Homo sapiens: one gene and its partner. The protein of the gene in region 2 purifies or fractionates together with the protein of the main gene of each other region. This does not show direct contact. Each region holds a gene or a part of one and is shown on either strand. Other genes may lie near its edges.

The links. Proteins that work in one complex are often made in the same cells at the same time.
Region 1: the proteins of CD40LG (region 2) and HPR purify together in Homo sapiens (affinity purification with western blotting, with the first as the bait; one study listed by BioGRID). This does not show direct contact.

Annotation. Positions count from the first base shown.
Region 1 is NC_000016.10:72,061,803-72,066,025, forward strand, and holds the start of HPR (haptoglobin-related protein isoform 1 precursor), read left to right. Parts: upstream 1-1,423; 5' UTR 1,424-1,453; coding exon 1,454-1,458; intron 1,459-2,954; exon of another isoform or gene 2,955-3,192; intron 3,193-4,223. UniProt on the Homo sapiens protein: Primate-specific plasma protein associated with apolipoprotein L-I (apoL-I)-containing high-density lipoprotein (HDL).
Region 2 is NC_000023.11:136,651,158-136,654,657, forward strand, and holds part of CD40LG (CD40 ligand), read left to right. Parts: intron 1-3,215; coding exon 3,216-3,273; intron 3,274-3,500. UniProt on the Homo sapiens protein: Cytokine that acts as a ligand to CD40/TNFRSF5. Costimulates T-cell proliferation and cytokine production.

The DNA.
Region 1 (4,223 bases), on a different chromosome or scaffold from region 2:
TCAAATGCAGGCTGTCTGAGCCTCCTCTCCTGATGGCAGGTCATGCTATTAAGGGTCTCCCAGAAGAAAGGTTCTGGAACTCTGAGAAACAGAAGCTCTTCTAACAGAACTTTTTCTTGCTATAAGCTTTCAATACCACCAATCACCAGTGCACCTTCTTCTCATGCCAAAATACGGCCCCTCCTTTGTAGGGTGTAAAACGACACTGATGTCACTCTCTCTCACCAAGGTCTGGCCATCTCTGTGAAGCTCTCCTCACAGGCACCCTGCAGATTCATCAATAAACTTCAACAGGTTAGCGCCAGTAGGCCAATAAGATGCACACTTATATTCTAGAACCTGTGAAAGAAGTAATAGCCAGAAACTGGAAAATAACAGTCAAACTCTTAAAAAAATGCCTCTCAGAACACAGTCACTTACACCTTTTCCTCTGGTAGTTCTCTTCAGCACCAAGTTTCCTGGAAGAACAAGCTACTCCCCAGTTTTCTTAAAGAATTGTCTGATTGTATTAAGTAAGTGGCTTCTGGTAAAATAATGGTAAGAGAAAAGCTCTGGCATTCTCTTGATCACTCATCTTCTCTGCCTTCCTCCCTAGCAACATCTCCTGGCCTCAGCCTGTGGGCTTCAGCAACACCAAACTCCATGTTGCTCTCTGACAAGCCCGGCCGTCTCCAGTTCTTGGGCTTTATTTCCTCGGGGGCCCTCTGCTGAAATTCCCTTCCCCTTGCTGTATTAGCACCTCCTACCCGCCTTCAACATGCAGGCACTGCCTCCTCTAAGGAGCCATCTGTACTTACGTAGCTGTGAGCATAGGATGGGGCATACAGCAGGCACTTAACAAATACTTGTGGAATGGAAAGAAACTAAGATAGGATCAAAAATACAAATCAAGATGTGAGAGAAAGACGATCAAAAGCCCTCACGAGGGGGCTGGGCGTGATGGCTCACACCTGTAATCTCAACACTTTGGGAGGCTAAGGCGGGTGGATCACTTGAGGGTGGGAGTTTGAGATCAGCCAGAGCAACATGGAGAAACCTCGTCTCTACTAAAAATACAAAAAATTAGCCAGGCATGGTGATATATGCCTGTAATCCCAGCTACTCGGGAGGCTGAGGCAGGAGAATTGCTTGAACCTCGGAGGTAGAAGTTGTGGTGAGCTGAGATCATGCCATTGTACTCCAGCCTGGGCAACAGGAGTGAAACTCTGTCTCAAAAAAAACAAAAAACAAAAAAGAACACCACGGGAAAATCAAGTGTGAAGCAAGAGCTCAACTCTTAACAGGGGCAATGTTTGGAGTTTTGTTACTGGAAAAGATAGAGACCTTACCAGGTCCAAAGTTTGTAGACACAGGAATTACGAAATGGAGAAGGGGGAGAAGTGAGCTAGTGGCAGCATAAAAAGACCAGCAGATGCCCCACAGCACTGCTCTTCCAGAGGCAAGACCAACCAAGATGAGGTGGGTCCACAGCTTTCCCTCCTGCCTTTCCTCTGGTTCTTTATTTCAGTCTTTTTTGCATACATTGGTACAGATGCAGAAATAGAACAAAGAAACAGGGCAAATGGGCTAAATTATAGTGAACCAAAGGGCTTAGTGTGTTAAATCTTCTCCTTTTCTGCATCCATAGAAGACAGTGCTGCTGTCTTTCCCAGGAGATAAGATTTACTCTCAGGAGTGTCTTTTTCCTTGAGGTTACGTTTTTGTCTTTGTAGGGTATGTCATCAGCTCCCGTGGTAGGCTTCCTGGCATTCGGAATATATTTACTAGCAGATATTTTCCTCTTTAAAAATGTATAATAAGAAAGACTAATAGTAACACATTTGAATGACACAATTAATTGACTAGTACTTGGGATACACACTAGTACCTGGGATACATCTAATTAAGACACTTAGATCTTAAAAAATAAAAAGACTTTTTGAAATGTTGAAATAATAAGACTAGAAACTTTTTTTTTTGTGAGACAGAGTCTCACTCTGTCACCAGGATGGAGTGAGTGGCGCGATCTCAGCTCATCGCAACCTCCCCCTCCCCGGTTCAAGCAATTCTCCTGCCTCAGCCTCCCAAGTAGCTAGGACTACAGGCGTGTGCCACCACGCCCAGCTAATTTTTGTATTTTTAGTAGCGATGTGGTTCACCATGTTGGCCCGGATGATCTCGATCTCTTGACCTCGTGATCCACCTGTCTCGGCCTCCCAAAGTGTTGGGATTACAGGTGTGAGCCACCGCACCCTGCCTAGAAACTATTTTAATAGAAGCAAATAGTGCCTGAATGGTGGGCGTCTGTTAGCGAGATGGTGAACTGGCAGATGGCGCCTGTGTGTCAATGCCCATGGCCACCGTCCTGCTTTCAGACACCAGTTCTCTTCCAGGTAACCTTCTGGCATTTTGGGGTTTGAGATACCATTTCCTAAAGGTGAATTATCACAAAATACTAGAAATAACCACATAAGTGTTTAAAATTATTGTTAAATACAGTAAGAAATTCTTCTTCAAAAGTTTAGCCTGCTTAAGTTTCCTTGTCCTTTGTTTCCTGCTTTCAAGGCCAGACTTCCTTACTCTCTGTGTTTCCCCTACCCTGGTAAACAACCTTCCTGCCAGTCCTTACCCATACAGCCCACATTCCACATCTGCTACCCACTCTGTGATTTACCTCTCCCGTCGCAATAGCCTCTCCCACCAAAACTGATCTTCCCGCCTTCCCACCAGTGCAACCACATTCCTGCACTTTGCAAGTTAGCCAACCGGGTTCGGATTGTGCAGTCCAACTCCAGCCAATGGAGTCAGGACACAGTAGCAGGGACAAGCTGCGTTAGACATAAAAACCTCTGCTTTCCTTTGTTTAGGGTGCTCTCGTGGCAACCAGACTTACCAGGAGCTCTATTCTGCAAAAGTAAATTTGCCTTGCTGAGAGACCCTTTGTCCTTTGGCTCAGTGTTGGTTCTTCTTTGCAGCACCGAGCATTTGTTTCCAACAAATTTGGTGGCCCATACAGGGAAAACATTGTCCTCCGGGAAAGGGTCTTTGATCACCTCTTGTGAGGAGACACATCCCACTGCCTTGTTGCAGTGGCCTCATGAGTAAGGAATCGAGACCCACCTGGTCTGATGAATAACCCCAGACTCTCAACAACGTGGGGAGAAAAAGACTTGCAACACTATGGTGGCCAGGTAACTCTGTGCGCAGACCAAGGTAAGAAATGTCGCAGGAGTGACAAAGTACTTCCTTGGTGGTCACTATATTCTGGTGGCTGAAAGTTCATGAATGGTAACAAGTGCTACTGCTGTGTGGAGTGAATGAGTCCAATCTGTGGGTCTATGGTTACCTCATACGGCTTAGCCTTCTCTGAAGGATCCTGATGTTGGGGTTTATATAGTCCTCCCAATGCTAAGCGGGACTTAAAATATTCCTAGGAGGAAAGTGGCCAGAGTGGATGAAGCAAAAGGAGAAGAGTGTGAAGAACCTCCAGGAGGTGGGGCTAAAAGATAGGCAAGAAATCTCTAATACGAGGGATTGAGCCACAGAAAGCTCCAGACAGATAAAAAAGAAATTCCTAATATGAGGAACTGAGCCACAGCAAGCCTCCAGCAGGCAACAAATCCCTAATATGAGGGATTGAGCCTAGCTAAGACCCAATATGGGAAATACCCCAAGAAAGACAGAGAATAAGAAGGATGAAAATAGTAACAAGGATATACCCCTTGATAGTCCCCTAGGTTTCATGTTAAAATACTGGAAAGATAATGAGAGGACTAAGCATAAGAAGAAGGAGCAAATGATAAAATATTGCTGTTTCATTTGGACCCAAGGTCCCATCCTCAAACCCTCAATCTTCTGGCCAAAGTATGGGTCGAATGAGGGTGTAATGAGTCAACTCCTAATCCAATATGTTAATGATAAAAGTCTGGTTTCTCAAGAAGAACTAGACTATGCTCTTTGTTGGAAGCAGGGACCTGTCCTCCTCTTTCCCTTAAAGACAACTAGGGAAGAATCCGATCCAGCATCTCAAATTGAGAAGTCAGACAAGCCGACTCCCACACCTAAAGTCAGCACATGGGATCCCCTAGACTGTCTTCCTTTGCTTACTGCCCCAATCCTAACCCCCCTACTCCTCAGGCAGCTGCTGCTGCCCCAGATCCCATCCCAGATTCTTCCCCAACTCATGATGTTCCTCCCGCTTACAACCCTGACTCTCAGGGGCAGTCGTCCCAAGAGCCTGTTCA
Region 2 (3,500 bases):
GACATAGGGTCTAGGGGCTCTTTCTCCTGAGGCAGAACATCAAGAGTTCTTTCTGCCTATGTCCCTTTCAGAACACTGAGTCAAATACCCTTGGGCCTCGGCTCACTTAGGGGTCATTTCTAGGAGGCAGCACTCCACATTGAGGACAGTTCTGGGCCAGGTGGGTGGGTATCTGGGTAAACCAACAGGAATTAGTTCTCACATATAGATGATGTGTAATTTAATGCAGGCGTAAAAGGGTTAAGATCTTATTTCTGATCTTATTTCTGCCCTCCTGTACTGTCACCGAGGTGCCATTTAATTCATTAGTGAAGACTCTAACAGCTTATTCCTGAGTCACCTACGGAGAACAGAATGTGGCTCAAATCCGCTGCTTGCTTTCAGGTTCTTTACACTAATCTAGGCTTTAGATGAAACTCCTAAACCCTTTCTTTGCAAGACTGGCCAGCTAGGAAAATGATTTGAGTTTCTTCGGTTCTTCGAGGATTTGGGCCAGTATTACAGAGTATTGGAAGATGTTACCAGTTTAAATGTGAATAAAGGCACTTTCAAAACAATGGCTAATAATCCAAATAACAGACTGAATGTGCTTGGCTATGTGACTTTGGGTAAATAACTTCACCTTTCTGGGCCTCAGTTTTGTCATCTATAACATGAGAAGACAGATTATCTGTAAGGGCACTATCAGCTCTGACATTCTACAATTATGTGATAAGCCTTCAGTTCCCTCCAATGGCAGTGAGAGTGGCTTGTCAGTCCCCCTCGTTTCTTACGGAGACTTTTACGGTTGAATTGTCAATTCCTCACGTCATTATTTCAGGTTGGCTATGTATGTAAAGCTCCCAAAATCAGCTACCGAGGATAGGAGTAAAGAAAACAGTCAGTTTGGCCTCCCTGCTTATGCTTGTATGAAAAAAGTGACAGCTCCAAAGTTTCATATTCTTAAAAGGCAGATCTTCTCAGGCATGTCAGCCAGGGCCCCAGGGATCTCCTCCTTACATGCAACTAAGGAGGCTCCTTGTCTCTACTGCAGCAGGTGTGGAACCCTAGTCAACACCACCTATACCTAGGATTACGTACAATGAGTAGATACAAAGTCCTCCAGCTACCCAATCCTCCCCCAATGACGGATCCCCTTTCCAATACGCTTTCCCCCAAATTTCTCACCCTAAAACAAAATTCGAGACTTTGAAAAAACTCAATAGGACAATTATAGAATAGCTCCAGATTAGATTCATATTTTCTTAGCTAATGTTAGTAGGCTTTCTTTCCGGGCCACAGTCTGGCTGCACCTAAGCAACCTCAAGTTTGAATTTGGAGTCTTTGAATCAGGTCTTGATGGGGTCTTAGAAGTCATCAGATCCAATTCTCAATCCACAACTTCAGTCTTCTCTCCACCTCCTGACTAAGTGGTCATCCAATCTCTGTTTGAACATCTCTAGTGACAAGGAACTCATTATCTCTGGAGGCAGGTAGCACTAATCTGTCATTTTGGGGGAAAGATGGTATTCAGGGCTCAAGTGAGGGTAAGCAGAGGTATTATTTTGAATAGTATAATTTCATATTAAAACTTACAACCCACCACACCTCTGCTAGATGTTCAGTTCCATGATTATTTGCCCACCAATGCCTGCGATGCCTTTGAGAGAGCCAAAGCATTTCTATTTCAAGTTAAAGGGCAACCTGTCCATACCTGCCACATGGAACTCCCACTAAGAGAGAAATAACCCATTCTGGATTTTCTGAAAGTCCACTTTAAAAAGTATTTCAGTTGAGGTGGGGAGTGAAGCAAGAAAAAAAAAAGGCTCTGGGGAGTGTGGTTGGGCGAAAGTTCACGGAAAGGCTAGGCTGGGCTCATGAAACACGAGCTTTGCTGACTTCATGTTTTCATCTTGGCCAGGCCTCAACACCAATGCAACAACTTAGCCTAAAAGTATCTCAACCTTGATCACCACACTCTACTTTTTGAAAAGACACTAAATAGTCATTTGTTTACTTGTGATCTCACAAACATTTTCCTGTCACCACATCTTCATAGTGCCGCGCTTCAGCTCAAATGGAAAGTTGAAGCTCTGGGGCCCATGTGAGTGTTCTGAGGCTCAGGTTCCCCTGGAGGCTCTATGAACTACGCCCTTAAATCTGGCAACTGAGCTGGGCCTACAGCCAGCACTCAACAGTGACAGCACAAATTCCTTCTGGAGGAGGAAATAAAAGGAAGGGTCCTATAGACAACTGATTCCAGGAGTGGGAAGGAGCACAGGACTTTGATTATCATAAGATGTGAAAATACTACTGTCTTCTTCCCTTGTGTGCAGAGGATAGACAGATGGAATTAGCTAAGCCCAGCCTATGAATGCCATCTCACAGTTTCCACTCTTGGTTTAAACCTCAGCTTCTTTGGGTGACCTCATAATGACCAGTTAAGCCCTCCAGGCCTTTTGTTCAGTCTCTTTAAAATGGCAGCAACAGCCTTTATCATCTTCCAACCTGTGTTGATGGAAGTTCCTGTTAGCTTCTTTAAATACCTCTAGACTTCCTTCAGTTTATAAGTGAAAAGAAACCTTTTAAGAAGTGTCGCACTTGCCTTTGAACATCAACACCATTGGGAGATGGCCTGTGTTTCCGAAATGCTGATTATTCTAAGTAAATACAGTGCAACTATCAATAAGAGAATCTCTTCAGCCCATTGAAAGGGATAGCAAAATTAAAAATGTCTGAGGGTCTTTTCATAGTCTGGCATTTCTCCCCAAGGTCAAACTTACTATTATCTTTTCCTACAGGATTTCAGACCAAATTTATTCTAATAGATACACACCATGCTTTATGTTTAATAATATTCCATATACCAGTTCCCAGGGTAGAATCATCTCCCCATTCGGCATTATTTGTCAATATCTGTCAAAGCCAAGGAGGTTGAGGTCATAGGAAGGGTCAGGATCACAGCCTCTGGTCTGGAGAGAGCACTGGAATGGAGATAATAAGGCCTGGATTTTACTTCCAGATTCTCCCCTGGGCTTTCTGGGTTGTTGGCTCATCTGTCAGATCCATGGACTCCCAATTGGCATGATGGAATTAATGACAGGATCTGAGTCTATATGATAATCCTCACCAGAAACAGACAACAGAGTAATGACAGATGCAAAACGAATGATAATTTTAAAACCCCACAGCAGAGCCCCTGTCAAAATGACCTCTTGCAATGCTTCTTATTTTAGGATATAATGTTAAACAAAGAGGAGACGAAGAAAGAAAACAGCTTTGAAATGCAAAAAGGTAGGTTTGCTATTTGCTAATTTCTATGAATGCCTAAAAACTAAAAGGAAGCTTTAGGCTGATCATATTGAACAACCCAGTGTTGTTGCATCAGGGAACTTTTAGCCCTGGAAATAAAACAGGAACACAATTGTCAAATTGACACCTTCTCTGGTCCCTGTGATTTGGAAAGACTTTGTACATATATATTTATGAAAAAAGGATGTGTTCCTTTAATGCCGATGATA